Linked DNA regions of Homo sapiens. The protein of the gene in region 3 interacts with the protein of the main gene of each other region in a biochemical or structural test. Each region holds a gene or a part of one and is shown on either strand. Other genes may lie near its edges.

What was found.
Region 1: the proteins of RNF8 (region 3) and MDC1 form a complex in vitro, tested with the Homo sapiens proteins (2 studies listed by BioGRID and IntAct, with this or other methods).
Region 2: the proteins of RNF8 (region 3) and UBE2E3 form a complex in vitro, tested with the Homo sapiens proteins (one study listed by BioGRID).
Region 4: the proteins of RNF8 (region 3) and UBE2V2 form a complex in vitro, tested with the Homo sapiens proteins (2 studies listed by BioGRID).

Annotation. Positions count from the first base shown.
Region 1 is NC_000006.12:30,700,282-30,707,305, reverse strand, and holds part of MDC1 (mediator of DNA damage checkpoint protein 1), read left to right. Parts: intron 1-1,207; coding exon 1,208-3,685; intron 3,686-3,768; coding exon 3,769-3,888; intron 3,889-4,019; coding exon 4,020-4,202; exon of another isoform or gene 4,203-4,239; intron 4,240-4,428; coding exon 4,429-4,554; intron 4,555-4,642; coding exon 4,643-4,753; intron 4,754-6,673; coding exon 6,674-6,841; 3' UTR 6,842-7,024. UniProt on the Homo sapiens protein: Histone reader protein required for checkpoint-mediated cell cycle arrest in response to DNA damage within both the S phase and G2/M phases of the cell cycle.
Region 2 is NC_000002.12:180,976,182-180,983,605, forward strand, and holds the start of UBE2E3 (ubiquitin-conjugating enzyme E2 E3), read left to right. Parts: upstream 1-4,423; 5' UTR 4,424-4,792; exon of another isoform or gene 4,793-4,831; intron 4,832-4,876; exon of another isoform or gene 4,877-5,296; intron 5,297-5,836; 5' UTR 5,837-5,861; coding exon 5,862-6,055; intron 6,056-7,424. UniProt on the Homo sapiens protein: Accepts ubiquitin from the E1 complex and catalyzes its covalent attachment to other proteins. In vitro catalyzes 'Lys-11'- and 'Lys-48'-, as well as 'Lys-63'-linked polyubiquitination.
Region 3 is NC_000006.12:37,356,983-37,364,006, forward strand, and holds part of RNF8 (E3 ubiquitin-protein ligase RNF8), read left to right. Parts: intron 1-3,463; coding exon 3,464-3,592; intron 3,593-7,024. UniProt on the Homo sapiens protein: E3 ubiquitin-protein ligase that plays a key role in DNA damage signaling via 2 distinct roles: by mediating the 'Lys-63'-linked ubiquitination of histones H2A and H2AX and promoting the recruitment of DNA repair proteins at double-strand breaks (DSBs) sites, and by catalyzing 'Lys-48'-linked ubiquitination to remove target proteins from DNA damage sites.
Region 4 is NC_000008.11:48,011,424-48,018,447, forward strand, and holds part of UBE2V2 (ubiquitin-conjugating enzyme E2 variant 2), read left to right. Parts: intron 1-7,024. UniProt on the Homo sapiens protein: Has no ubiquitin ligase activity on its own. The UBE2V2/UBE2N heterodimer catalyzes the synthesis of non-canonical poly-ubiquitin chains that are linked through 'Lys-63'. This type of poly-ubiquitination does not lead to protein degradation by the proteasome.

The DNA.
Region 1 (7,024 bases), 6.7 Mb from region 3:
TTAATCTATTCCTTTCTCATTATTCAGTTTTCTTCCATTTTTGTCACGCCTTGATTGGCTTCTATTCCTTTATCCTCGGCACCCGTTGTTTTCCATATCTGTTTCCTAAGTTGTATCTCCTACCTGACTCAAAAGAAAGACCCTTCGTGTTTCTTCTTTCTTTGCCCCAGCCATCCTTTTCCTTACCATCATCCACGTGTGGAGAACACTATAGTAGCATTATGGAGACAGGTCTGTGGGAAAAAGGTAGCTTCCCAGGTAGATCCCAGTCTAATGGAGGAGAGATCATAGACAGAAAGGAAAATCCAGTGAGCATATTTTTTGTTTTTGTTCTTTTTTGAGACAGAGTCTGTCTCTGTCACCCAGGCTGGAGTGTGCAGTGGCGTGATCTCAGCTTACTGTAACCTCCGTCTCTTGGGTTCAAACAATTTTCCTGCCGCAGCCTCCCAAGTAGCTGGGACTACAGGCGCATGTCACCCGGCTAATTTTTGTGTATTTTTTTGTTTTTTTTGAGACAGTCTCACTCTGTCACCCAGGCTGGAGTGCAGTGGCGCGATCTTGGCTCACTGCAACCTCTGCCTCCCGGGTTCAAGCGACTCTCCTCCCTCAGCCTCCCAGGTAGCTGGGACTACTAGGCGCCTGCCAACACACCTAGCTAATTTTTTTTTTTTTTTTTTTTTTTTTTAGACAGAGTCTTGCTCTGTCCCCCAGGCTGGAGTGCAGTGGCACCATCTCGGCTCACTGCAAGCTCCGCCTCCCGAGTTCACGCCATTCTCCTGCCTCAGCCTTCCAAGTAGCTGGGACTACAGGCGCCCGCCACCACGCCCGGCTAATTTTTTGTATTTTTTAGTAGAGACGGGGTTTCACCGTGTTAGCCAGGATGGTCTCGGTTTCCTGACCTTGTGATCCACCCGCCTCGGCCTCCCAAAGTGCTGGGATTACAGGCATCAGCCACCATGCCTGGCCTTTTTTTTTGTATTTTTAGTAGAGACGGGGTTTCACTATGTTGGCCAGGCTGGTCTTGAACTCCTGACCTCGTGATCCGCCCGCCTCGGCCTCCCAAAGTGCTGGGATTATAGCCGTGAGCCACCACGCCCGGTGGAAATCTGGTAAGCCTATCTAACCATAAACAAGTATCAAGAACAGTATCCAAGTTCTATCTCTTTTCTCCACCTCCTCCCCCTCACTTGCTTCTGTTTCTCCCTAGGGCGATCAGGAATCTCCAGATGCTTGTCTGCCTCCTACAGTACCTGAAGCCCCAGCCCCACCCCAAAAGCCCCTTAACTCTCAGAGCCAGAAACATCTTGCACCTCCGCCCCTTCTTTCTCCCCTTTTACCTTCTATCAAGCCAACCGTTCGTAAGACCAGGCAAGATGGGAGTCAGGAAGCTCCAGAGGCTCCCTTGTCCTCAGAGCTGGAGCCTTTCCACCCAAAGCCTAAAATTAGAACTCGGAAGTCCTCCAGAATGACACCCTTTCCAGCTACCTCTGCTGCCCCTGAGCCCCACCCTTCCACCTCCACAGCCCAGCCAGTCACTCCCAAGCCCACATCTCAGGCCACTAGGAGCAGGACAAATAGGTCCTCTGTCAAGACCCCTGAACCAGTTGTCCCCACAGCCCCTGAGCTCCAGCCTTCCACCTCCACAGACCAGCCTGTCACCTCTGAGCCCACATCTCAGGTTACTAGGGGAAGAAAAAGTAGATCCTCTGTCAAGACCCCTGAAACAGTTGTGCCCACAGCCCTTGAGCTCCAGCCTTCCACCTCCACCGACCGACCTGTCACCTCTGAACCCACCTCTCAGGCTACTAGGGGAAGAAAAAATAGATCCTCTGTCAAGACCCCTGAACCAGTTGTCCCCACAGCCCCTGAGCTCCAGCCTTCCACCTCCACAGACCAGCCTGTCACTTCTGAGCCCACATATCAGGCTACTAGGGGAAGAAAAAATAGATCCTCTGTCAAGACCCCTGAACCAGTTGTGCCCACAGCCCCTGAGCTCCGGCCTTCCACCTCCACAGACCGACCTGTCACCCCCAAGCCCACATCTCGGACCACTAGGAGCAGGACAAATATGTCCTCTGTCAAGACCCCTGAAACAGTTGTCCCCACAGCCCCTGAGCTCCAGATTTCCACCTCCACAGACCAACCTGTCACCCCTAAGCCCACATCTCGGACCACTAGGAGCAGGACAAATATGTCCTCTGTGAAGAACCCTGAATCAACTGTCCCTATAGCCCCTGAGCTCCCACCTTCCACCTCCACAGAGCAGCCTGTCACCCCTGAGCCCACATCTCGGGCTACTAGGGGAAGAAAAAATAGATCCTCTGGCAAGACCCCTGAAACACTTGTCCCCACAGCCCCTAAGCTCGAGCCTTCCACTTCCACAGACCAACCTGTCACTCCTGAGCCCACATCTCAGGCCACCAGGGGCAGGACAAATAGGTCCTCTGTGAAGACCCCTGAAACAGTTGTCCCCACAGCCCCTGAGCTCCAGCCTTCCACCTCCACAGACCAGCCTGTTACCCCTGAGCCTACGTCTCAGGCTACTAGGGGAAGAACAGATAGATCCTCTGTCAAGACTCCTGAAACAGTTGTCCCCACAGCCCCTGAGCTACAGGCTTCCGCCTCCACAGACCAGCCTGTCACCTCTGAGCCCACATCTCGGACCACTAGGGGAAGAAAAAATCGGTCCTCTGTCAAGACCCCTGAAACAGTTGTGCCCGCAGCCCCTGAGCTCCAGCCTTCCACCTCCACAGACCAACCTGTCACCCCTGAGCCCACATCTCGGGCCACTAGGGGCAGGACAAATAGGTCCTCTGTCAAGACCCCTGAATCAATTGTCCCTATAGCCCCTGAGCTTCAGCCTTCCACCTCCAGAAACCAGCTTGTCACCCCTGAGCCCACATCTCGGGCCACTAGGTGCAGGACAAATAGGTCCTCTGTCAAGACCCCTGAGCCAGTTGTCCCCACAGCCCCTGAGCCCCATCCTACCACCTCCACAGACCAGCCTGTCACCCCCAAGCTCACATCTAGGGCCACTAGGAGAAAGACAAATAGGTCCTCTGTCAAGACTCCCAAACCAGTTGAACCAGCAGCCTCTGATCTTGAGCCTTTTACCCCCACAGACCAGTCCGTCACCCCTGAGGCCATAGCTCAGGGTGGTCAGAGCAAAACACTGAGGTCTTCCACAGTAAGAGCTATGCCGGTTCCTACCACCCCTGAATTCCAATCTCCTGTCACCACAGACCAGCCTATTTCCCCTGAGCCTATTACTCAACCCAGTTGCATCAAGAGGCAGAGAGCCGCTGGGAACCCTGGCTCCCTCGCAGCTCCCATTGACCATAAGCCTTGCTCTGCACCCTTGGAACCTAAATCCCAGGCCTCAAGGAACCAAAGATGGGGAGCAGTGAGAGCAGCTGAATCCCTTACAGCCATTCCTGAGCCTGCCTCTCCCCAGCTTCTTGAGACACCAATTCATGCCTCCCAGATCCAAAAGGTGGAACCAGCAGGTAGATCTAGGTTCACCCCGGAGCTCCAGCCTAAGGCCTCTCAAAGCCGCAAGAGGTCTTTAGCTACCATGGATTCACCACCACATCAAAAACAGCCCCAAAGAGGGGAAGTCTCCCAGAAGACAGTGATTATCAAGGAAGAGGAAGAAGATACTGCAGAGAAGCCAGGGAAGGAAGAGGTGAGGAGAGGGTTGGGACCACAAAGCTGGGAAAAATGACTTCAGGGCTCTGAAACTCCCACCAAGATTTTTCTCAATCTCAGGATGTCGTGACTCCAAAACCAGGCAAGAGAAAGAGAGACCAGGCAGAGGAGGAGCCCAACAGAATACCAAGCCGCAGCCTCCGACGGACCAAACTTAACCAAGAATCAACAGCCCCCAAAGTAAGAGACAAAGGCATGGGACTTTGTGGGAGACAGAGATGAGGGGAGGATGCAAGGAGACCTAGAGGATTGTAGAGATGGGTGCTGATGGCATGGGTTGCCGTAACCACCTCAGGTCAACCCTTCCACAGGTGCTCTTCACAGGAGTGGTGGATGCTCGGGGAGAGCGGGCTGTGCTGGCACTGGGGGGAAGTCTGGCTGGTTCAGCGGCAGAGGCTTCCCACCTGGTCACTGATCGCATCCGCCGGACAGTCAAGTTCCTGTGTGCCCTGGGGCGGGGAATCCCCATTCTGTCCCTGGACTGGCTGCATCAGGTGAGAGGCCAAGGGATGATGACAGACCGATATAGTGGCAAGACTGCTCATATAGTGCCCTAGAAAGTGGTGGAAGGGAAGAGGCGTTACAGGAAGACAGGGGCATTGGTGAGCCAGAAGCCTGCATTGATTTAAAAGACATTTTGTGAGCTCTCTCTAAATGCTAGGCAGCAGAGCTGATTGAGGGGCTGGGCTGAGCTTTGATGCTGACTGCTGCCGTCCTTAGTCCCGCAAGGCTGGTTTCTTCTTACCCCCGGATGAATATGTGGTGACCGACCCTGAGCAAGAGAAGAACTTTGGCTTTAGCCTTCAAGACGCACTGAGCAGGGCTCGGGAGCGAAGGCTGCTAGAGGTGAGAGGCTATCTTTTAACCTGTGCTTCAGCCCTCCCTCCAGTGCTTCCCAATCTACAATACCATCTCCATCATTTCTTTCTCTTAGGGCTATGAGATCTATGTGACCCCTGGAGTCCAGCCACCACCACCTCAGATGGGAGAGATTATTAGCTGCTGTGGAGGCACATACCTACCCAGCATGCCTCGGTCCTATAAGGTATGCTTAGGATGTTCTGGGTCTGGGTGAGGTGGCAGTGGCAGTTAAAGAGGTGGCTGGAATGGCAAAGATTGGAGGGAAAAAAATGGAGGTTCAGAAAGGAATATAAAGTAGTGAGAGGGTGGGGGAAAAGACCTATGGTATAGAAAGGGATAGGAATGAGGGGACAGATCTGCTGATACCCCCATATAACAATCACCGAGATTCAGCAGCAGCTTAATTTAGATTATGCTACATTTGCTCCATCTATCCCTTTTTTCCTTTGATTTTCTTTTTTTTTTTTTTTTTTTTTTTTTGAGATGGAGTCTCACTCTCAGGCTGGAGTGCAGTGGCACAATCTCGGCTCACTACAATCTCCGCCTCCTGGGTTCACACCATTCTCCTGCCTCAGCCTCCCGAGTAGCTGGGACTACAGGTGCCCGCCACCACGCCCGGCTAATTCTTTTGTATTTTTAGTAGAGATGGGGTTTCACTGTGTTAGCCAGGATGGTCTTGATCTCCTGAGGTCATGATCTGCCCGCCTCGGCCTCTCAAAGTGCTGGGATTACAGGCGTGAGCCACCGCGCCCGGCTTTTTCCTTTGATTTTCTTTGCTGAAGTATTTCATTTCTTTTTATTTTTCTTTATTCTTTCTTTTTTTCCTTTCTCTTTCTTTGCTGAAATATTTTAAAGCAAACTGCCAATATTATATTATTTCTTCCTACATACTTAAATATATATCTCTAAGAAATACGTACATTTTATTTCATAATCACAATGCCATTATTGATCCTAAGCAAAATTAACAGTAGTTTATTGGTCATTTGCTCACACTCCATTAATAAAATTTCTCCCATTGTCTGAAAAATGTCTCTATACAGTTGTTCAAATCAGGATTCAAATAAGGTCCACATACTGCCACACCTATTATCTTCTTAATTATCTTTACTCTAGAGCATCCCTTAACCCACCCAGCTTTTTTTATGCCATCTATTTCCTGCAGAAGCTGGGTCACTTGTCCTTTAGAATGTTCCTCAGTCTGGAATTTTGGGTTTGCCTCCTTGTCATATAATTTATCTTGTTCCTCTGTACTCCATATTTCCTGGAAATTGCAGATAATTGTAAAAGCTTGAATAAATTCAGGTTCATCTTTCTAGCAAAAGTATTTTTTTTTTTTGAGAGAGTCTCACTCTGTCGCCAGGCTGGAGTACAGTGGAGCAGTCTTGGCTCACTGCAACCTCCATCTCCCGGGTTCAAGCTGTTCTCCTGCCTCAACCTCCCGAGTAGCTGGGACTACAGGCGCACACCACCACGCCCAGCTAATTTTTTTATTTTTACTAAAGACGGGGTTTCACCATGTTGGCCAGGATGGTCTCGATCTCTTGACCTCGTGATCCACCCACCTCGGCCTCCCAAAGTGCTGGGATTATAGGCGTGAGCCACTGTGCCTGGCCTCTAGCAAGAGTATTTCTTTTTTTTTTTTCTTTTTTTTTTTCTTTTGAGATGGAGTCTTGCTCTGTAGCCCAGGCTGGAGTGCAGTGGCGCGATCTCGGCTCACTGCAAGCTCCGCCTCCTGGGTTTTCACGCCATTCTCCTGCCCCAGCCTCCCGAGTAGCTGGGACGACAGGCACCCGTCAGCGCGCCCGGCTAATTTTTTTTTTTTTTTTTTTTTGTATTTTTAGTAGAGACAGGGTTTCACCGTGGTCTTGATCTCCTGACCTCGTGATCCACCCGCCTCAGCCTCCCAAAGTGCTGTGTAATTACAGGCATGAGCCACTGCGCCCGGCCTAGCAAGAGTATTTCATAGACAGTATGCGGTGTGCTTCACTTGGCTTCATATTAGGAGGTATTATTTTAGTGATGGTAAGACTGGTTAGTGGGTCCTGAACCCATTTCTAGGATTCTTTTTCACCTGATTTTGCCTTTGCTCTGTCTTCCCCAGCCTCAGAGAGTTGTGATCACATGCCCTCAGGACTTCCCTCATTGCTCCATTCCACTACGGGTTGGGCTGCCCCTCCTCTCGCCTGAGTTCCTGCTGACTGGAGTGCTGAAGCAGGAAGCCAAGCCAGAGGCCTTTGTCCTCTCCCCTTTGGAGATGTCATCCACCTGAGAACTCCACTACCCTTTTCCCTCCCAGACCACGAATTAGAAGATATGTGGAAGAAAGAACTCAGGGCGTTAGAAAGGATTGGGGTATATTGATACAACTTGTCCTGGAACATGGGTGGGACCAGAAATCTTTATGAATAAATGAAAAGATAAGGGATTTGGAAGCCACAGGTTGTTTTTTGTT
Region 2 (7,424 bases), on a different chromosome or scaffold from region 3:
AAAGTTGTTCATATTCATAGTCACTCTAAAATCTAGGTACTGGTCAACCTTTTGTTTTCAGACATTTTTGTTTTGCTTATTGTAAAAATATGATGCATATTCATTCAACAAATATTTATAGATGATTTACTTTGTGCTCGGTACCTTGAGAGGTATTGAGGCAGGCTCTGATTTCCCAGTAACTAAAATAGACAAACTTCTACCTTAAGTGTATTTTATAATAATCTGTTTTTGTATTTTAGCTTGCTTTTCACAACTGTTATTTTAATAATGGCAAATTTAATTATGTGGGTGAATCAGTATGTGTAATCATTTGCATATTGTTGGACATTTCCAGTTTTTCAGTATCATTTTTCTCACTTTTAGAATGTTTCCTTGAAGTACATTTCTTTTGAAATGGAGAAATCTGGTCAAAGGGTATGGCCACATTTAAGGCTCCTGAAAAAAATTTCCAAATTCCTTTTCGAAACATGTACCAATTTTCATTCCTACTAGAAATGGACAAAGGGATTTTTTAAAAAACAATTTGCCAGGAATTATTATAATAACTAAAAATTGTTTTTGTTATTTTGATAGATATTTCATTTCAACTTTCCTTTCTGGATAACTAGCAAGACTACATTTTTGTTATAATGTTAAATATTTCTTTAAAAATTTTTGCCTTTTGACATACTAAGGTGCTCACGGTTTTGTTTCATGTGTACAGGCTCCTTACCATGACATGAGCCTTTTTTGGTATATACCTTCCCTGAGAGTTATCTCAAAAGAGAAATACAGAAAATAATCACTGAGTTATCTGACGTCAAACCAAGGCTTATGCACCTTTCCAACTCCAGGGCCCAGCCCTTGGTGTAGGACACAGCAGGTTTTCCCCTCAGGATGCAGTGGAAGTGCACCCAGATGTCAAGCGGCACATTGGATTCTGGGGGTCCAAAGACACTGGGACTAACAATGACAAACAAGGCTGTGTAAACTAAGGCTGAGCCAAGAAATACCTTCCTAGTAAACCAATCCAGTCTTTATGGGTAGAGAAAGAAAATTTCTTAGCCAGAGAACTGAGGATACAAGTAACTGGAAAGCATCAGAAACAGCCAGTAAAAATGAAGGGACTCTTAGAAAAGTTATTGACTGGAAGGAAACAAAGTACCTTAAAATCAACAAAATAAATTCATATTTATTCTACATTTTTTACATGTGAGGGATGCTGCTGGTCATGGTGGATAAGTAGAGGTCTATACCCCAGCTTACATAATCATTCAATTCAGAAACTTCTTAGGTAACTCAGTGATAGATCCTGTGAAATTCTTAGTTATACATACTCACAGTTATGTACACAGATAACACTGAGACTCATTGAAAGGCGCAGGAAAAAGCATCTCCCAAACTAGGGAGGTGCAAAGGATTCTGGGGTCTGCCTTATTTGCCCTTAGGCAGGCCTCTTTTTGTCACAACATTTGGTGGATAAGGGGATAAGAGATAATCATTGTAATACTGCAATTGGATTCGGCATCTTCCCTCTTACCACTGCCCTTCTCAGGGTTGTGAGAGGCTGGCAGGACCCCACACCAACAAGAGAAAATAAAAGAGACTGAGAGGAAACAATCTTCTTTGTGGTAGCTGGTGTCTGCTTGTGGAACTATTCTGAGGGACCTTATGGGAAAAGGGCCCTTTTTATATTTTATGAAATAATTGCATTAGGTCAAATTTGTATGCTTCCAAGAGTGCCTGTGAAACATGATCCTTAATTTCAAGGATTGACATAGCAAAAACAAGAGAGAAAAAATAATTACAAAACAGGTTGTCACACAAGGAAGAACTAAACATTAGAAACAATTTACACCTTACAAGTTACTTCTGGTGGAGGTGATGCCAAGTCACCTGGGAGAGGAGCTGTGAGCTGAAATCATTTGAGCAACCCCTTGAGTCAGCTGAATGAAGGCAGCCAGGCACCTCACATTGTAGGGGCAGGGCACTACTGCCCCTAACCTTATGGAGCCATTCATTATCTTTACGGTGACTTTAACAATAGGTATTATTTGTTGAACACCCAAATTCCAGGTATTTTGCCAAGAGCATTATCTATATTATCTACATTATCACTGGCCCTAGTGCTCTCTCCAGGACCAATCTAATGTTTCCTTCTTTGACCTTTACCTCATGCCCCACAATTCCAACCTGAATTAATAGTTCCATTATTAGTTAATTGATGATTAGTAATGCTCTTTTCTCATTCTCTTTACTTCTTTAATACAGCACTTCTCATTCTGCAGGCTACGTTTCTGGCTGCCCCACTGCACAATTGAGCTTGGTTAAGAGCATGACCCATGTTTCACTCCAGTTTCCCAAGCAGTTAGTAGATCCTAAATATTCTGTTGGGTGAATGTTAAGTTAAACTCCATGACTTCAAGTTCGCCAAAGAATCACGGAATCATGGAATTTTTGAGCAGGAGAGGACTTAGAACCTTTGATACAATCTCCTTTTACATAAAAGTAATTGAAATAACTTAACTTGCCTGAGGTCATATGAACTTCGTAGAATGAGGATTAGAATACACTTCCCTGGCTTTTCAACCCAATACTATTTCTTCTGTAGAAGATGTTACCAAACAACTAAATATCTTTCTCCCCTAAGCTCCTTACCCCACTAAATCCTATCAGCAATTGGCCTTTGGGCCTTCAGGCTATTTCTGTTCTTAAATTTCCTAAAAGAACCCATGTTTAACGTACAGCTTTCCTTTTCTGTCTCCCCATTCCAAACAAAGCAAAGCTTCAACTCCAAATTGGCTGGCTTTTGCTGTAACATCACATCGTGTAAAGCTGGGGGAAAATTCTGCTTTTATTTTCACTAACAAGCTTTTCCCACAAGCACTCTTTGACCCAGCCAAATCAAAATGCTTGTCCACACACAGACCATGATCTTTTTTGAGGCATGAGATATTCTATCTGTTCATTCTGAGTGGAATATCCTTACTACTTATGAACCTAGCGAACTTTAATGAACTGTTCCCCTTCTGGACTAGGAGCTCTTAGCACAGAGTAGAGACCTGGCTTTAGTCACACAGCAATTGAATGAGTGTATGTCCAGCACCTAGCAACATATAGCCCTCAATAAAGTTAACTGAATGACTGTGTCTTTGGAAAATTATGGAAATGTAACTTACTCTTTAGAGTTGCTATCAAGCCTTTACCAAAAGTTTTCTATTAGGAGAAATAGTAAGCAAATACGTTGGCTCACTCAGTCTTTTCTTCTTTCCCTTAACTCTATACATCTTTTGACTGCCATTCTCACTCCCTTTGTGAACTGCACATTCTCACAGCACCCCTGCCCCTGGACACTTGTGGGAGAGGAATCCACAAATTCCTTTGAGGCTCCATCACCGGAACAAGTTCTCAGTAGCTGGAGAAGGCCTGGGTGGCAAACAGGAAGTTTTTGTATTCTGGCTACTTTGTGCCGTGGGGTAAAAACCGCAGAGTCCACCTGGAGACTGCAAAAAGAATGGTAGAACAAACAAAACTGTCACTATCTCCACCTAAAGCTTTTCTGGGTGGACATTCTGACTCAACATCACTCAGAACTTTTCTTTCCAGAACTGGCTCCTCATGTGCAAGACAGAAGAGTCCCGCAGAAAAGTGTCATGTTTTAGCTCTCATCGCCACCCCCCAACCCCAAACTCTTCTCCTTCACTTTTAAGAATGTTGAGCGGGACATTTTAAACACTGTTTTGGATTTTTAAGGTTTCAAATAATCCGAAGGACACTTCCCTTTGGCAGCGACAGTTGCAAGCTATGAGCCAAAAAGAAATAGAGGTTGTTCCCCTAATCTCCAAATACATTCTACCCTCTTCAATTCCCAGGACCCCAACTTGTCCCTTCCTCCAGCTTACGCGAGGGGCAAGTGGCAGCTCTTCTCCGCCTGCGTGCCTGGCCTCGTCAACAACACCCATTAGTCTCCCGTCTCCCGGGGCGGCGGGGGACTCCCAACCACGCGCCCAGGGCCCTTGCCCAGGTACTGGGGCCCCGGGAGCCACGACGGCCCCCGCGCAGGCGGATGGGATGGAACCAGCCCTGGGGACGCGGGTAGCCCAATGGGCAGCCTCGCCCCGGAGGCGGGCCCAGGCCGGAAGCCACCCCGCGGCACAGCGGCCCCGCGATACGGTGCCCGCGCCCCCGCCTTCTCTGGCACAGGCTCCGCGGCCAAGGGCGGCAGGGGCCAGCCCGCCGGGTCCCCGCCGCGCTCTTTGTCCTGGCCGCGCGCGGGCGGACGCGTGCACCCCCAGGGTGAGGGGAGGTGTGGAGAGCGCGCACGGGAGCGCGCGGGAACAGCTCGCGCCCGCCGGGCGTCGGCGGCGCGCGCCCCTCCGCCAGGCAAGCAGCGAGCACGCGCGTCGCCGCCGCGCCCGCCCCTCCCCCCCGCGCTCGCCTCGGAACTTGCTGACTGCGCGGCCGGGAGGAGCCGAGCCGGGCGGCGGCGGCGGGAGGCTACAGCGCGCGGGGGTCTCCCGCGTCCCCTCCGCCTCGCCGGGAGCTCGCGCCCTCGCCCAGCCGAGCTCCCACCCCCGCTTTTTTCCGAAGGCGCTGGGCGGCGCCACCCTCCGGCCGGAGCCCGGCACTGCACAACCCCCTCCGACTTTCAATGTTCCACACTCCCCGGCCAGAGCCTCCTCGGCTTCTTTTTTTCCCTCCCCCCCCTTCCCCCCCCCACAGCTGCCTCCATTTCCTTAAGGAAGGGTTTTTTTCTCTCTCCCTCCCCCACACCGTAGCGGCGCGCGAGCGGGCCGGGCGGGCGGCCGAGGTAAGGCGGCGGGGCCGGGGGGCCGCGTGGGGGGCGGCCGGGGCGGCGGCGGCGGTGGGGGAGGGGGCGGGGGCGGGCAGCTTTGTTCGCGCCGGGCGCCCGCGTCGCCGGTGTCCGCGAGCCGCGGCGGGGCCGGCTGGGCTGCTCGCATCACTTGGCGCCCGGCGCGGCGAGCGCTACCCGCGGCCCCCGCGCGGCCCTCCCCACAAAGGGCCGCGGAGCTGCGTGGCCGCCGCCGCCGGCCGTGGCTCGCCTCCGCGGGCGCGGAAATTTGTTGCACTTCTTGGGGCTTTGTTTATTTGTTTGTTTTTTCTCTGGGTTTCTTATTTTTTTCGTTATTTTGGACAAAATGTCGGTCCGTGATATAAAAATTGAGCGAGGAACCTTGGTGGCATTGGGAGCTTTGCAGAAGGTGCAGTTTGAATTCTGCTTTTCCCAGGGTGGCAGCTCGGTCTTGGCCGGATGAATCTTCGCTGCTGGCCGTGGAAACAGCTAGAGCAGCTCGTTAGTTGATTTTTAAATTTCCAAGTGTTGTGTTTAAAGGCTTTACGTGCACTGAGGAGGAATCGCCACCTTAAATAAGCATATGGGCGATTAACAGGGTGTGTTTTCCTCTCGGAAAGGGAATTTGGTAGCTTTGACCAATGTCAGTGTGTAAATATTTAGACGTTATTAGTGACTTTTAAACATTTTTCAGCGAGATCTGTTATTTACAGTGTGTCATATGTTATTAATGCTTGTTGCCTAAGTTCCTTGGCAAATCTGTTTCATGCCTTCTGAGAAAGTAGACAATTGATAGATTGTCCAAGAGACGGAAAAAAATGTGAGTGGGTTTTCTAACTTGAGTTCGGCAAATCCCTTAACGCTGGCGTTGTGTGACACATCACCTCCCTTGTACGTACCCCTGTTGTACGATGAAATAAGTGTGAACACTTTTGAAGCTTTTTCATTACAAGACGATTTTAGATGACTAGAAGAAAATGCTGTTGGTTTATTTCCTAGATTTAACATTTTCTCCTCCTCCTCCCCTGTTCTCTTTAAAAGTTTTCCAAGAGATAACTTCACCAAGATGTCCAGTGATAGGCAAAGGTCCGATGATGAGAGCCCCAGCACCAGCAGTGGCAGTTCAGATGCGGACCAGCGAGACCCAGCCGCTCCAGAGCCTGAAGAACAAGAGGAAAGAAAACCTTCTGCCACCCAGCAGAAGAAAAACACCAAACTCTCTAGCAAAACCACTGCTAAGTTATCCACTAGTGCTAAAAGGTAATGTGTAAAAGAAGGATCCAGCACACTTTGTCAGGTTGTCTTCCAGGTGGTTGGACGCTTTTGTTGGTTTTACCTCAATAGCAGTAGTTCAGAAATATTTACTTCATTATCAGTTTAATTGTACTTGAATGAGTTGTCATTCTTTAGGTGGTATGTAAGCAACATTACTAGAATTATACTTTTAAGCAAACTTAATTCTGTACTTCGGTAACTTCAGTTAAGAGTGTCCTTGAGTAGAGATTAGACTAACATTCTGACAGATTGTTTAAGGAGTTGGCAAGGAAAATTTGGTGAACCCAAATTAGATGGTACTTTGGGGATGTTCCTTTTATGAGTCATAATCTTCTTTAATGAAATTGACACTTCCAGAGATTAGCAGTGCCTCTCTTCATGAAACTTAATGATCAGAAATGATCATATTTGCTAGAAAATTTGCAAATTCAGGCCTTTGCTATATTTGAAAGCAGATTTAAAATTGTGCTGCAAATCTGCTTACAGTTTTACAAAACATGACTTTCAATCGTATATCACAGGTAACTTTCCTGGTTAAATTATGATTATCCCTTCCTGTGCTTGTGAGGGCAAATCAAACTGAAAAGTAGCCCTTTACAATTTGAGGTGTCACTAGTGATAGAAAACTTGCATTGTCCTTGGGCCTCTTCACTCTGAAACTTGTGGATGTGCTTGACAAGTTAATACTCAACAGCAGGAGAAACATATTTAATTGGATGTAAGTGAAAGATCATTTGTTTCCTATTGATTGATGTTTTCTGATGGAGAAAAAAAGATTCTGTCAATGAGACTCTTATCAGTGGTAGTAGTAGTGGAATATCCACAAACTCTAGTAATTATACATAAAATGTATAATGTTTACAGCATTAACCAATTTTGACATTTTGTTAATTTTTATTGATAACTAAAGGAAAAAGAATATAAAAACTGATCAAATATTGCATTCTGTGGTGATTCATAAATACTCATATTTTTCTATGGATTTTCACCCTTATTGTCTCAGTAATGAAGTATTAATAACTTGATAATATTTTTGAATGGCAGCAGTCTTTGACATAATTTAAAATTCTCAATTTGGTATAGTGTTGATGCGGAACATATTAGACACATCTAAAGTTTTGAAATCATCTTAAATTTGAATCAAATCAGAGAACTGCTTTTCTCCCCCTTAACTCAGGCCTATGTATTTTCTCCTCTTTCTCTCAATGTTTATTAAATTTAAGTGCTGTACCTAAAATCAGGGAAAACAGAAATGGTTAAATTAGAATGTCAAGTAGTCTTTGAAAGTTTTTCACAAGTAAAGATATTTGTAAATTTTAAACTTTTTTTTTGACAGATAAAATATTGTCAGAAC
Region 3 (7,024 bases):
CCCGCCTGGGCTTCCCAAAGTGCTGGAATTACAGGTGTGAGCCACCACACCTGGCCAGATTTACTTGTTATTTGAGAAACAGTAGGAATTGTGCCCAGGAGGAAAGAGATAGTCTTAGTGAAGGTGGGCAAAGACAGGATGATCTTTTAGATCAATAATGTGTGTAAGCTCAAAGGCTTGCAAAACTATTGTAAATGAAAACAACCCCTCACATATGGGTCGTCAGTCAGTTCCCACGGGAAATTCAGTGTTATGTTGAGTGGTCCTGAGATTTCCAGGTAACCTCACTGCACTCTTTAACTACAGTATAGGTGAAATATCAGTAGTACCAAGGTAAATTCTAAGACCAGGCAGTGCAGGGAAGGATGTAAAAGAATGATTCCTTTTTCTGGGTTCAGAGTCTGTTGGAGGCAATGTCAGGAAAAGGCACTCTTCTACTGTTTTGGTACTGTTTTCCCCTGGCTACTCACAATGGCAGTCTGGCTGTCTCCCCTCAAGTATTAGCATGTAATATGAGATGCTTCCTCTCTTAGAGATAAAGCTACCTAAATAGAAATTTTACTGAATATGGACGACAGATAAATCCCTAGCCATTCCATTTTTAACAGATATGTGTATTCAGAGGAACTTCTATAATTAATATAATTCTGGCAGAGTGTGAAAGAACTGAAAAACTTTGTGCTCAGTGTTGGTGGAGTGATCACCACAACATTTTAAAGAGAAACAAGTGAGACTGTATGAGTTCCAACTGCTGCTCCATATTTTCCAATGGTAATACAGTCTCTAACTTCTGACCTAAAAACACCCACCCTAAAATCTTGAGGACTCATATGCAAGACCTCTTTATTCTTTCATTCATTCTCAAATACTTAACTGAACACTATGCCAGGTATAGAAACACAGTGGTAAACAAGACAGATAAAGTCCCTGCTTATCTAATTTATATTCTATTACGGGGACAGAGGGGAAAAGTAAAATAAACAAGATAATTTTGGTCTGTGATAAGTACTTCCTAATAACTGAAGAAATATGATGGGAAGCAGACAACCAACTTTAGACAGAGGTAATCAGAGTAGGCTTATGAGTAGCTGGAACATGAAAGATAAGGAGCCTGTGCAAGATCTGAGAGAAGAGTGTTCTTAGCAGAGGGGCTAAGTGAAAAGACCCTCAGGTAGGCTGGCACTTCGGGGAGATGGGCTTAAGGAACAACAACAACAAAAAAGTTTGAGGGGCTGGAGCAGCTAGTGTTGGCACTATGGTATGAGTTAAGACTAAAGAGTAGAAGGGCTCAGGACATTCAGGGTCTTATAGGCCATGGAAGGAAGTTTGAATGATTGGACAGTTTTAAGGAAAGAAGGAAAATGACCTGATTTAAAATTTTTACATTTCTATTCCAGTTACTATTATAAAGCTTATGGGGGCTAGAGTGAGAACAGAAACAGTAGGAGGCCAGGTGGTTTGGACTAAGGCTGTGGCTGCAGAGATAGGAATGAACAGACTTAGGACATATTTGAATTATAGCCCATATAATTTACCAGTGATTTCAATGTGGGGATGAGGGACAGAGATGAATCAAAGATGGCTTCTGGGTTATGGGTTGAGTAGTTGGTTGGATAGTATTGTGAATACTGAGATAAGAGTTTGTGGGGAGGAATAGATTAGGTCAGTGAGTCGTGGTGGTCTTTGAGGGACTGAGGAGGACAGGCATTCTGAAAGATTTTAAAGAGAAGAGAAGAGGGCAGTTTTAGCTAACTTTGGTTTAAAGTTCCCAGTTAAGGTTGTGATATGGGACATTAAAGAGGTCGTTTGTGCACTAAGAAGAATATGCAGGGAGCCGGGCGCGGTGGCTCACACCTGTAATCCCAGCACTGTGGGAGGCTGAGGCAGGCAGATCACTTGAGATCAGGAGTTCGAGACCAGCCTGACCAACATGGTGAAACCCCGTCTCTACTAAAAATACAAAAATTAGTTGGGTGTGGTGGTGCGTGCCTGTAATCCCAGCTACGTGGAAGCTGAGGCAGGAGAATTGCTTGAACCCGGGAGGCAGAGGTTGCAGTGAGCTAAGATCGTGCCACTGCACTCCAGCCTGGGTGATAAAGCAAGACTCTCTCAAAAAAACAAAAAAAAATTAACAAACAAAAAAGAATAAGGGAATTCTGTGATCTGGAACTCAGAAGAATTTCATTTCCTTCCTTCACAGGGTTGTTATGAACTAGACTGGTCCAACAGGAAAGTATGATAGATGTGAACTGGGGCTTCTTTTCAACCTTTTCCGGAAGCTCTCAAGCTGTTCTTGTGGATAAGACAGAGAATATGTACTCCAATGCAAAGACTTTTGGTTGAATTATAACTGGCTGAAGGTATATCCAGATGGTGTGGGTTAATGTTTACTAGGTTTTCCTGAAAACTTTGCCTTTGGCTGCATCCCATTCTGTGTCTTGAACGAAGGTATAGAAGGCATCATCTCATAAATTTGGTGGAAGAGATATTAAGTATGTCTGATCTGATGGCAGATTAAAAATTCAGAAAGGTCTTGACAAATTGGTTTGATAGGCTGAACTAGCAAGATGAAATTTAATAGGAATCAATCTAAGGTCCTGCGCTTGAATCCAAGGTTTTCCATCCAGTCAAGTATAGAGCAGAAGAGACAGGACTTAGGATAGCATTTCTTGGAGGAGGGGGAGACCAAGAAATTTAATCATTCCTAAGTTCGAGGATACACTGGCAGTGTACTAGATCTGCTATGAAAGCTAATGCAATTTATATGCTCCAGTGATAATATCTAGAACTGGGAAAGTAACACTTGCGTTTGACTGTGTAATAGAAATTAAGTTTATTTTTCTTAATATGCCATCCAGGAATAAAGATAAACCAGCAGTCCCTTCACAGACTCATTAGAATGGCAAAGGCTCAAGCCCATCCCCTGGGAGTTAAGTTGAAGTAACTGGGAATACAGAACCAGGAAAAGAGAAAACTCAGTGTTCACTTTATATCTGTGCCATTGAAAGGGGATTGGAGATTTCCCGATGGTGCCCAGGGCAAAGCCAGGGCCAATGGATGGAATTTACAAGGAGAAAAATGCCAAGTCAGAGACATTTTAAAAATTGGAGGGCCTGCCTTATGTAAAGTTACTGACAGTATTTATGCGTTGATGGGATGTGTAGAAAGAATTCCTCTATCTCATAGTCATTGAACCAGATGACCTTTCAAGATCTTGGCAACCCTGAGATACATGGATAACTCTTTTTCAGCTTTCTCTTGTTGTCACAACCGTTTGCCTTTTTCTACTTGGTGGTTCTCAAGACAGCTGAAGAGGAGATAGCTGATGCACTGTTTTGGTTCCACAGGTGTCTGGTTTCTTAAGTCAGGACCTGCATATGCTGCTGGTTGATGAGATTTGTAAAGGACCTCCCTTTTCAGCACAATGACTGATGGTATTTCTTGCATTGTTGTTGTCTCCCAGGTGACTGTAGGACGAGGATTTGGTGTCACATACCAACTGGTATCAAAAATCTGCCCCCTGATGATTTCTCGAAACCACTGTGTTTTGAAGCAGAATCCTGAGGGCCAATGGACAATTATGGACAACAAGGTACAGGAATTCACAGAAGCCTAATGACTTTTATTTGTTTTTAAATTACTTTTTTTTTTTTTTGCATAGGTAATTCATGGTATAAAATTCAAAAGTATAACTTCTTCTTTCCTAGCCATCCAGTTCCCTTTTCCAGAGGCAGCCACTTCCATATGCTGCCAGAGATTCGATTATGCTAAAATAATTTCTCTTGATTTGGGTTAAAGTTTGTTAACTTGAAGAGAATACCTGAATTGGGGTAGTAGGTCCTATTCCAGAAACTAGACTAAGTTACTGGGCAAATAAGCCTGTTTGAGGTGAAGCTCCCAGAGACCCTGGGAATCTGCAGAATCTGCTGACGCTTCTGGAGTACACTTATGGCTCAGTGGACAAGGGGAGGAGGGAGAAACTGATCTGATTGCGCTTAGCTCCTTTCCTTCCTCACTCCTTTCAATCTGAGCAACCTCCCCTGGCCTTTAAAACATGTTTTAAATATTGGTGTTCCGAAGATTTCCTTTGAATAATGGGTTTTTCTCCTTTAAACAAATTTGAAAACCACTAGTTTAGTGGTAAATATATTGAGGGAGGTGCAATAGTATATGAAGCCCAGCAATTAGAAAGTACCTAATGTGCTGGGTGTGGTGGCACATGCCTGTAGTCCCAACTACTGGAGAAGCTGAGGCCAGAGGATTGTTTGAGCCCATGAATTCTGGGTTATAGTGTGCTATGCCATTCTGGTGTCTGCCTTAAGTTCGGCATCAATATGGTGTCCTCCTGGGAGCAGGGGACCACCAGTTTGTCTAAGGAGAGGTGAACTGACCCAGGTTGGAAGGAGGGCAGGTCAAAACTGCTGTGCTCATCAACAAAGGGATTGCACCTGTGAATAGCCACTGCACTCCAGTGTGGCTGACATAGTGAAGCCCTGTCGCTATCAAAAAGAAAAGAAGATACCTAAAGTGCAGATATACAAGCACCGAGGAATGTGATGAAAATACAGACTATGAGGTGAGAGAAATTCTAACATAAACAGTTAATGTTTAGGAAGTATAACATGTCTTTAAGTGCCATTTCATATTGCTTCACTGCCCCAGTTAGGATTTTAAAGGTACCATTAGAAGGGAGGGTATCCCACAGGTCTGCCTGCCATCCTCATATTGCGTGCATAAAACTGCTAGATTTAAGCTGTTGGAAAGTATCTTCCTGCTCTAGAATTAAGTTGAGTTGGCACTGTATTGAAGGAGACAGTACATAAATGCTAAGTAAATCAGTTCAGCACTTTTAGCAAGGCACCATGAGCAGGATAAAAATTGGCACTGAGATTATCTACTTTAACCCCTTATGTAGACAGATGAATCTGAGGCCCAGAGAGATAAACTGTCTTGCCCAAAGCCTTCTCTATAATGAGCCAGGACTTAAGTTTCTCTGCTATGCCCTGTGTCAAGTATCAGTAAAGTATGTAAGCAATTTGCTATACTGGCTTTATGACGTCAAACAATTAATTATGCATATTTAAAATATAGCTGCAAGGTTTTAAAGCCTCTGTAATAGCGTATATCAAAACAGCTTAGGAAAAGATGTTTTCCTCATCAGAGTAGGCTGTATGAGAGTTAGGATTACAATATTATAGAGGTGAGTTCTCTGCTGCTGCTTTTCTTAATTATGTGCAGTGTAGATGTGATCCACTTATGGGATTAGCAGATTTTCATAGGTTGGGAAGCCAACAGCTGATCAACTTCAGTGTTATTTGAATTTCAACCACAGGGATACAGAGGCAGCCTGTGCAAGATCAGATCATGACTGTGCTCCGGGCTCACTCTCCAGTGTTTGCTTTGTACCCTTCCTTCTAGGGTTGCTGTTATCATATGATTCTTCTCAGGTCTCAGTCAGGCAATAGAGAGGAAAGATAGGTTTCTTAACAACCTGTTTAAACTTTTTAGCTGTGATTGTTTGTGAGATAACTGATTTAATTTTAAGAGAAGCTAGGACTGGGGTGTTTTGATGGAACAATTCTTACAAGTAAATCCCCCCTGCCCCCTGCACTTTTCTTTTGACTACAGATGCCCCCTTTCTGGCTTCCTCCTGGCATGATGCCATGGCAGCCCTCTTCTGCTGATAAGAGACCTGAATTTCAGCTGTAGGGTATTATTGCTGTGGTTGTGTTTGAAGTCATTTGCCAAATCTTTTTCAAGAGATAGGTGTTTCTAACAAGTTAAAAACTCAGAGCTGCATTCTCTTATCTGCTGGAATGGCCAGAAAGTGAGAGCTTAAGTATAGATACAAAAATTGCAAGAAATGTTATTTTGGTTTAAAATTGGCTTAAAATATAGAAAAAAACCTTGGAGGACAGCTAAGTCTGCACACAGTATGAGGATGGTTCTAGTTGTGTAGGTTTTGGTCAATTCATAAGCTTTTCAGATGGCCCGTCCTTTGTATTGGTATCCAGCTCTTTCAGAAAATTGGTTGTTTTAAAGTCACAGTATGAAATGCCTTAGAGGTTCAGTCACGTCTTACTTGAGCCTTTCCCATTCTTACCCTCCTCTCCTGTTGCTTTTCACCTGCTGCCTGGTGATTCCTACCTTTGTTCTTCTGCAGACTCTGGCATTTGAAGTCCCTGTTGAGTGTACTCTTACGTGAACAAAGTTTGCTGTTTGGGACAGTTCAGCTTCTGGTCCTCCAGCAACTAGAGCAGTGGTTATCAACCCTGTTTCCAGTTTTTACTCTCACCTGGGGCACTTTTTAAAAATACTGATGGTAGTACAATAAAAGCGTTCATTCGTCAAAAAACACCATTAAGAGAGTAAAAGGCAAACTCAGAGGAAGATGTTTGCTACACATTATAGTCAATGAAGGGTTTATACTGAGGTATCTGCAGAACTCCAATAAGAAAAAGACAGATATGCCCTATTTAAAAATGAGCAAGAGACAAGCACTTCACAAAAGGTTCTATCCAATGAAAAGTTGTTCAACCTCATTAATAATCTGGGGAATTTAAATTAAAACCATAATGGAATACCTCTACACATTCACCAGAGTGGCTAAAATTGAAGACTAGTGATGCCAGGTATTGGTAAGGATATGGAGTGATAGAATGTTCTTACCCTTCTGTTGGGAGTGTAAATTGGTACAATTTGGGAAATTATTTGGCATTATTCATTAAAGTTGAACATACATATAGCTCTTGACACAGTATTTTCACTCCCCGGGAAACAGCCCAAATGTCCATCAACAGTAGAATGGATAAATTGTGGAATAATCTTATATTGAAACACTATACTATAGTGAATATGAATGAACTACTATATCTAATAACATGGATAAACCTCACATAATATTGAGTGAAAGAAGGCTGGGCGCTGTGGCTCACGCCTGTAATCCCAGCACTTTGGGAGGCCGAGGCGGGCGGATCACGAGGTCAGGAGATCGAGACCATCCTGGCTAACATGGTGAAACCCC
Region 4 (7,024 bases), on a different chromosome or scaffold from region 3:
TGCTCCGGCCTCCCAAAGTTCTGGGATTACAGGCATAAACCACTGAGCTTGGTCTAATACACGTGTTTTTTATTTAAGCCAAAGTATCTCGATAACAGTTGTTTAAGAGGCCAAAAAGAAAAACCCTGACAAATATGTTTTGATCTTTAGTTCAGTGTGCATCATATACCTTAGCCCCTTTAACCCTTCCTTCTACTGGAAGAGAATTTTGGAAGGAAAAAACTTTTAATTAGACTGAGACTTTTTGAGACGGAGTCTTGCTGTGTTGCCCAGGTTGGAATGCAGTGGCATGCGATCATGGCTCACTGCAGCCTCGACCTGCTGGGGTCAGGTGATCCTCCTACCTCAGCCTCCCGAGTAGCTGCGAACACAGGCACGCATTGCCACACCTGGCTAATTTTTAAATTATTTGTAGAGACAGGGTCTCCGTATGTTATCCAGTGTAGTCTGAACTCCTGGACTCAAGTGACCCTCCTGCCCTGGCCTGAGGTTAGGATTACAGGTTTGAGCCACTGTGCCTGGCCAGACGGAGACTTCTAAGCAGAAACATTTTTGGCCATCCCATCTGGTCTTCTTATTTTGCAGATGAGAAAACTGAGGCTCAAACAAGTAAAAGGCTATACATAGGTGGTTACTAGTACAGGCAAGACTAGAATCCAGGTCTTTTACCCTTAGTCTGATGCGCTCTCCATTATGAAGAACTCTGAATTTGGAATATTTCTCAGAACATGAATCTTAATTACTCCCTTTCACACTTCCCTTCTTAGCACAATCCTTGTTTCAGACTCTTAGATCCTTCTTATGGATGAAAGGGGAACGTAGCCCTCACCAGCTAGGTTCTCCTTTTCCAAGAGACAGAGTTACCCATGCAATTCAAGAGTATTTCACAGGACAGAGGTTAAGAAGCTACTCTCGGGAATAGAAATTTGATACTGTTTAGTACTCATGATTCAAAATTTTATTAGATTCCAGCATTAATAATAACAATTAGTTTAGATAGAAAAGTATGTGCAGGCCGGGTGGGGTGGCTCACACCTGTAATCCCAGCACTTTGGGAGGCCGAGGTGGGCGGATTACCTGAGGTCGGGAGGTTGAGACCAGCTGGACCAACATGGAGAAACCATGTCTCTACTAAAAATACAAAATTATCCGGGCGTGGTGGCACATGCCTGTAATTCCAGCTACTCGGAAGGCTGAGGCAGGAGAATCTCTTGAACCCGGGAGGCAGAGGTTGTGGTGAGCCGAGAGCACGCCATTGCATTCCAGCCTGGGTAAGAAGAGTGAGACTCCATCTCAGAAAAAAAAAGAAAAAAAGCGTGTGCAATAGTTTTAAAAAAATACAATAGTTTTAGTTTTACAGAAAAGTTGTGAAGATAGTACAGAAAGTTTCCATGCACCTCACATTCAGTTTTCCCTGTCAATTTCCTTTTTTTTTCTTTCGGGATGGAGTCTTGCTCTGTCGCCCAGGCTAGAGAGCAGTGGCGTGATCTGGGCTCACTGCAACCTCTGCCTCCTGGGTTCAAGTGATTCTCCTGCCTCAGCCTCCCGAGTAGCTGGGATTACAGGTGTGTGCTGTCACACCCGGATAATTTTTTGTATTTTTAGTAGAGACAGGGTTTCACCATGTTGGCCAGGCTGGTTTCAAACTCCTGGCCTCATGATCCGCCCGCCTTGGCCTCCCAAAGTGCTGGGATCACTGGTGTGAGCCACTGCATCTGGCTTCGCTGTTAATTTCTTATATTGGTATGGTACACTTGTCACAATTAAGGAACCAATATTGACACATTTATTATTAACTAAAGTTCAGATTTCCTTAGTTTTTCTTTAATGTACTTTTGCTGTCCTAGGACTTCATCCAGGATACCACATTACATTGTAACGTGAAACTTTTTTTTTTTTTTTGAGATGAAGTCTCGCTCTGTGGCCCAGGCTGGAGTGCAGTGGCGTGATCTTGGCTCACTGCAAGCACTGCCTCCTGGGTTCATGCCATTCTGTGGCCTCAGCCTCCGAAGTAGCTGGGACTATAGGCGCCTGCCACCATGCCCGGTTAATTTTTTTTGTATTTTTAGTAGAAGTGGGGTTTCACCGTGTTAGCCGGGATGGTCTCGATCTCCTGACCTCGTGATCCATCCGCCTCGGCCTCCCAAAGTGCTGGGATTACAGGCGTGAGCCACCGCGCCCGGCCCACATGAAACGTTTTACATTTATCACTTAGGTAATATTAATGGTACAGTGAAGCTCTAGTCTCTGACTGTAGATGCCTGGAAAATGTCTTTGAGTTATGAGAAACTCAGAAAAAATTGATGAAAGAATATGTTTTCTGCTATGTAGGCAGAAAACAAAACCAAAATATAACCTACTAATTGCCTTCTTCAGAAGTGGGTAGCATTGTATATACTGGAAGAACTAGTTTAGCAGTGTTCTGAGTTCCCTGCTGCCCCTGACAGACTACTGTGCCACCATGGGCATGTCAGTTAATCACTAAACATTGCTTTTCCCATCCCATCTGTGAAAAGATTGGACAACATCATCTTGTTTTCCTCTTTAGATGAAGATACTTGGATATGGACAGAACTCGGGTGTGGTGATAGAAGAGAATTACATAGTTTAAATCATAACCTAGAACTTGGGAACTAAACGATAGAAGAGCTGAACTATGGTAGTCTAGTGTATTTCCCTCTTGAGGCTTCCATAACTGGCCTGGTTGATTTTTCTAGGTCATTTGGGAGCCTGAATTCTCTTGATAAACATGCTTTTGATAATATGGTACAACCTCACTGTACAGGCAGTCCTTTGAACGGCAGTTGGCAGAGGTAAAAATGGCCATGCAAAAAACTACCCAAAGCAGTCTTAATAATTGGGAAAATTATGGTTATTCTGAGACCTTCAAAAATGTCAACACATTAAGAACTCTCCCTGTTTAGAAATATGCAGGAAAGGGCCGGGCATGGTGGCTCACGCCTGTAATCCCAGCACTTTGGGAGGCTGAGGGGGGCGGATCACGAGGTCAGGAGATGGGAGACCATCCTGGCTAACACAGTGAAACCCTATCTCTACTAAAAATACAAAAAATTAGCCGAGTGTGGTGATGGGCGCCTGTAGTCCCAGCTACTCGGGAGGCTGAGGCAGGAGAATGGTGTGAACCTGGGAGTCGAAGCTTGCAGTGAGCTGAGATTGCTCCACTGCACTCCAGTCTGGGCAACAGAGAGAGACTCTGCCTCAAAAAAAAAAAAAAAAAAAATGTGCAGGAAAATGAAACCAGTAAAATTAATATTTAGTATGTCATAATTTAAAGTATCAGATATTAAGAATTAAAATGTTTTATTTCATTAAAAAAAGCTTGTTGGCTGGGCGTGGTGGCTCACGCCCGTAATCCTAGCACTTTGGGAGGCCGAGGTGGGTGGTTCACGAAGTCAAGAGATCAAGACCATCCTGGCTAACATGGTGAAACCCCGTCTCTACCAAAAATACAAAAAACTAGCCGGGCGTGGTGACAGGCACCTGTAGTCCTGGCTACTGGGGAGACTGAAGCAGTAGAATGGCATGAACCCGGGAGGCGGAGCTTGCAGTGAGCTGAGATTGTGCCACTGCACTCCAGCCCGAGTGACAGAGCGAGACTCCATCTCCAAAAAAAAAAAAAAAAAAAAATAAGGCTTGTCAAGAGTAGCTTGAGGCTGGGTGCAGTGGCTTCCACCTGTAGTCCCAGCACTTTGGGAGGTCGAGGTGGGTGGATTACTAGAGCCTAGGAGTTCAAGACCAGCCTGGGCAATACAAGAAAATCCCATCTCTACAAAAAATGCAAAAATTAGCTGGGTGTGGTGATGTGCACCTGCAGTCCCAGCTACTTGGGAGGCTGAGGTAGAGTATGGGTTGAGCCTGGGAGGTTGAGGCTGCAGTGAGCTGTGATCGTGTCACTGCACTCCTGCCTGGGCGACAGAGCAAGACACTGTGTCAAAAAAAAAATTAATTTGAACAATGCTTGCTAATGTTTTGAAGTACATTATCTGTACATTGTGGAATGGTTAAATCTAGCTAATTACCAAATACATTATCTCACATAGTTATCATTTTTGTGGTGAGAATACTTAATAGCTACTGAGTATTTTTCAAGAATACAGTATGTTGTTAACTAATCACCATGCTATACAGTAGTGCTCTTAAACTTGTTCCTCCTGACTGTAATTACGTATCCTTTGTCTAACATCTTCCCAATCCCCACCCCCGTAACCCCAACCATCCTAACCTCTGGTAACCACCATCTCCTGTCTACTTCTGTGAGATCAATTTTGACTCCATATATGAGTGAGATAATATGTATTTGTCTTTCTGTGCCTGTGTTATTTCAGTTAACATAATGTTCTCCAGGTTCATCCATGTTGTTGGAAATGAGAGAATTTCCTTCTTTTTTATGATTGGAACAGTGTCCCACTGTATACGTATACCACATGTTCTTTATCCATTTGTCTGTGTGGTTTTTTTTTTTTTTTTTTTTGAGACGGAGTCTCACTCTGTCACCCAGGCTGGAGTGCAGTGGCGCGTTCTCAGCTCACTGCAACCTCCACCTCCTGGGTTCAAGCAATTCTCCTGCCTCAGGCTCCCTAGTAGCTGGGATTACTGGCACCCGCCGCCAAGCCCGGCTAATTTTTGTATTTTAGTAGAGATGGGGTTTCACCATATTGGCCAGGTTGGTCTCAAACTCCTGACCTCAAGCAATCCATCTGCCTCGGCCTCCCAAAGTATGGGGATTACAGGCGTGAGCCACCGCGCTCAGCCTATCCATTTGTTGGTTGATGGATACTTAGGTTGATTCTATATCTTGCATATTTTGAGTAGTGCTGCAATAAAATGGGAGTGCAGGCCTCTCTTTGACATACTGATTTTATTTTCTTTGGCTATATATGCAGTAGCAGGATTACTGGATCATACGGTAGCTCTGTTTTTAGGTTTTTGAGGAACTCCATACTCTTCTTTCTCCATATGGTTGTACTAATTCACATTCCCACCAACAGCATGCTTAGATTATCCTTTATCACCACATACTCACCAACACTTGTTATCTGTCATCTTTTTTTTTTTGAGACGGAGTTTGGCTCTTGTTGCCCAGGCTGGAGTGCAATGGCATGATCTCGGCTCATTGCAACCTCCACCTCCTGGGTTCAAGCAATTCTCCTGCCTCAGCCTCCCGAGTAGCTGGGATTACAGCCACGCACCACCATGCCTGGCTAATTTTGTATTTTTATTAGAGACGGGGTTTCTCCATGTTGGTGAGGCTGCTCTCGAACTCCCAACCTCAGGTGATCTTCCCACCTTGGCCTCCCAAGGTACTGGGATTACAGGCGTGAGCCGCCGTGCCCAGCCTTTTTTTTTTTTTTTTTTTAATTGAGACAGAGTCTCGCTCTGTCGCCTAGGCTGGAGTGCAGTGGCGAGATGTCAGTTGACTGCAACCTCCACCTCCAGGTTCAAGCGATTCTCCTGTCTTAGCCTCCCGAGTAGCTGGGATTACAGGCACCCGCCACCATGCCTGGCTAATTTTCATATTGTTAGTAGAGACATGATTTCACCATGTTGGCCAGGCTAGGCTGGTCTCAAACGCCCGACCTCAGGTGATCCACCTGCCTTGGCCTCCCAAAGTGCTGGGATTACAGGCGTGAGCCACTGCGCTTGGCCTCATCTTTCATCCTTTTGATTATAGCCATTTTAATGGGAGTGAGGTGATACCTCATGTGGGTTTTTTTTTGCATTTCTTTGATGATTAGTGATGTTGAGAATTTTTTTCATATACCTCTTGGCCATTTGTATGTCTTTTGAGAAATGTCTATTCAGATCTTTTACCCATTTTTACATGAGGTTATTTTCTTGGTATTGAATGGAGTTCCTTATATATTTTGGTTATTAACCCCTTATCAGATATATAGTTTACGAGTATAGTGAACCATTCTGTATGTTCTCTCTCTCTTTTTTTTTTTTTTGGTGGAGTTTCGCTCTTGTTGCCCAGGCTGGAGTGCAATGGCACGATCTCAGCTCACTGCAAGCTCTGCCTCCTGGGTTCAAGGGATTCTCCTGCTTCAGCCTCCTAAGTAGCTGGGATTACAGGCATGTGCCACCATGCACTGCTAATTTTGTATTTTTAGTAGAGACGGGATTTCTCCATGTTGGTCAGGCTGGTAATAAACTCCCGACCTCAGGTGGTCTGCCTGCCTCAGCCTCCCAAAGTGCTAGGATTACAGGCGAGAGCCACCGCGCCTGCCAGTTCTCTCTTTATTGTTTCCTTTGCAGTGCAGGAGATTTTTAGTTTTATGTGATCCAAATTGTCTGTTTTTGCTTTTGTTGAGTGTGCTTTTGAGGTCATATCCTCCAAAAATCATTGCCCAGACCAATGCCATTGACTTTTCTTCCTGTTTTCTAGTAGTTTCATAGATTGCCTTTTTTTTTTTTTTTTTCCTGAGACAGTCTCAACCTGTCACCCAGGCTGGAGTGCAGTGGCATAGTCACGGCTCGCTGCAGCCTCAACTTCCCAGGCTCTCACCTCAGCCTCCCGAGTAGCTGGGACTACAGGTGCACGCCACCATACCTGGCTAATGTTTTGTATTTTTAGTAGAGATGGGGTTTCGCCATGTTGGCCAGGCTGGTCTCGAACTCCTGACCTCAGGTGATCCACACGCCTCGGCCTCCCAAAGTGCTGGGATTACAGGTGTGAGCCACCATGCCCAGCTGCACAATGCCCAATTTTGCCACTTCTGTTCAACATAATACTGGAAGTCCTAGAAAGAGCAATAAGACAAGAGAAAGAAATACAAGGCATCTTAATTGGAAAAGAAGTTAAACTGTTCCTGTTTGCAGAAGACATATGATGTCAGTGTTTATTGTTATAAAAACTTCTGTCTTAAAACTGCTTTTGCTGTATTCCATAGGCTTTGTATGCTGTGTGTTTCAGTTTTCATTTTTTTCAATAAACTTCCTAATTTGTTTTTTAATATCTTCATTGACCTATTGGTTGTTCAAGAGCATGTGTTTAACTTCCATG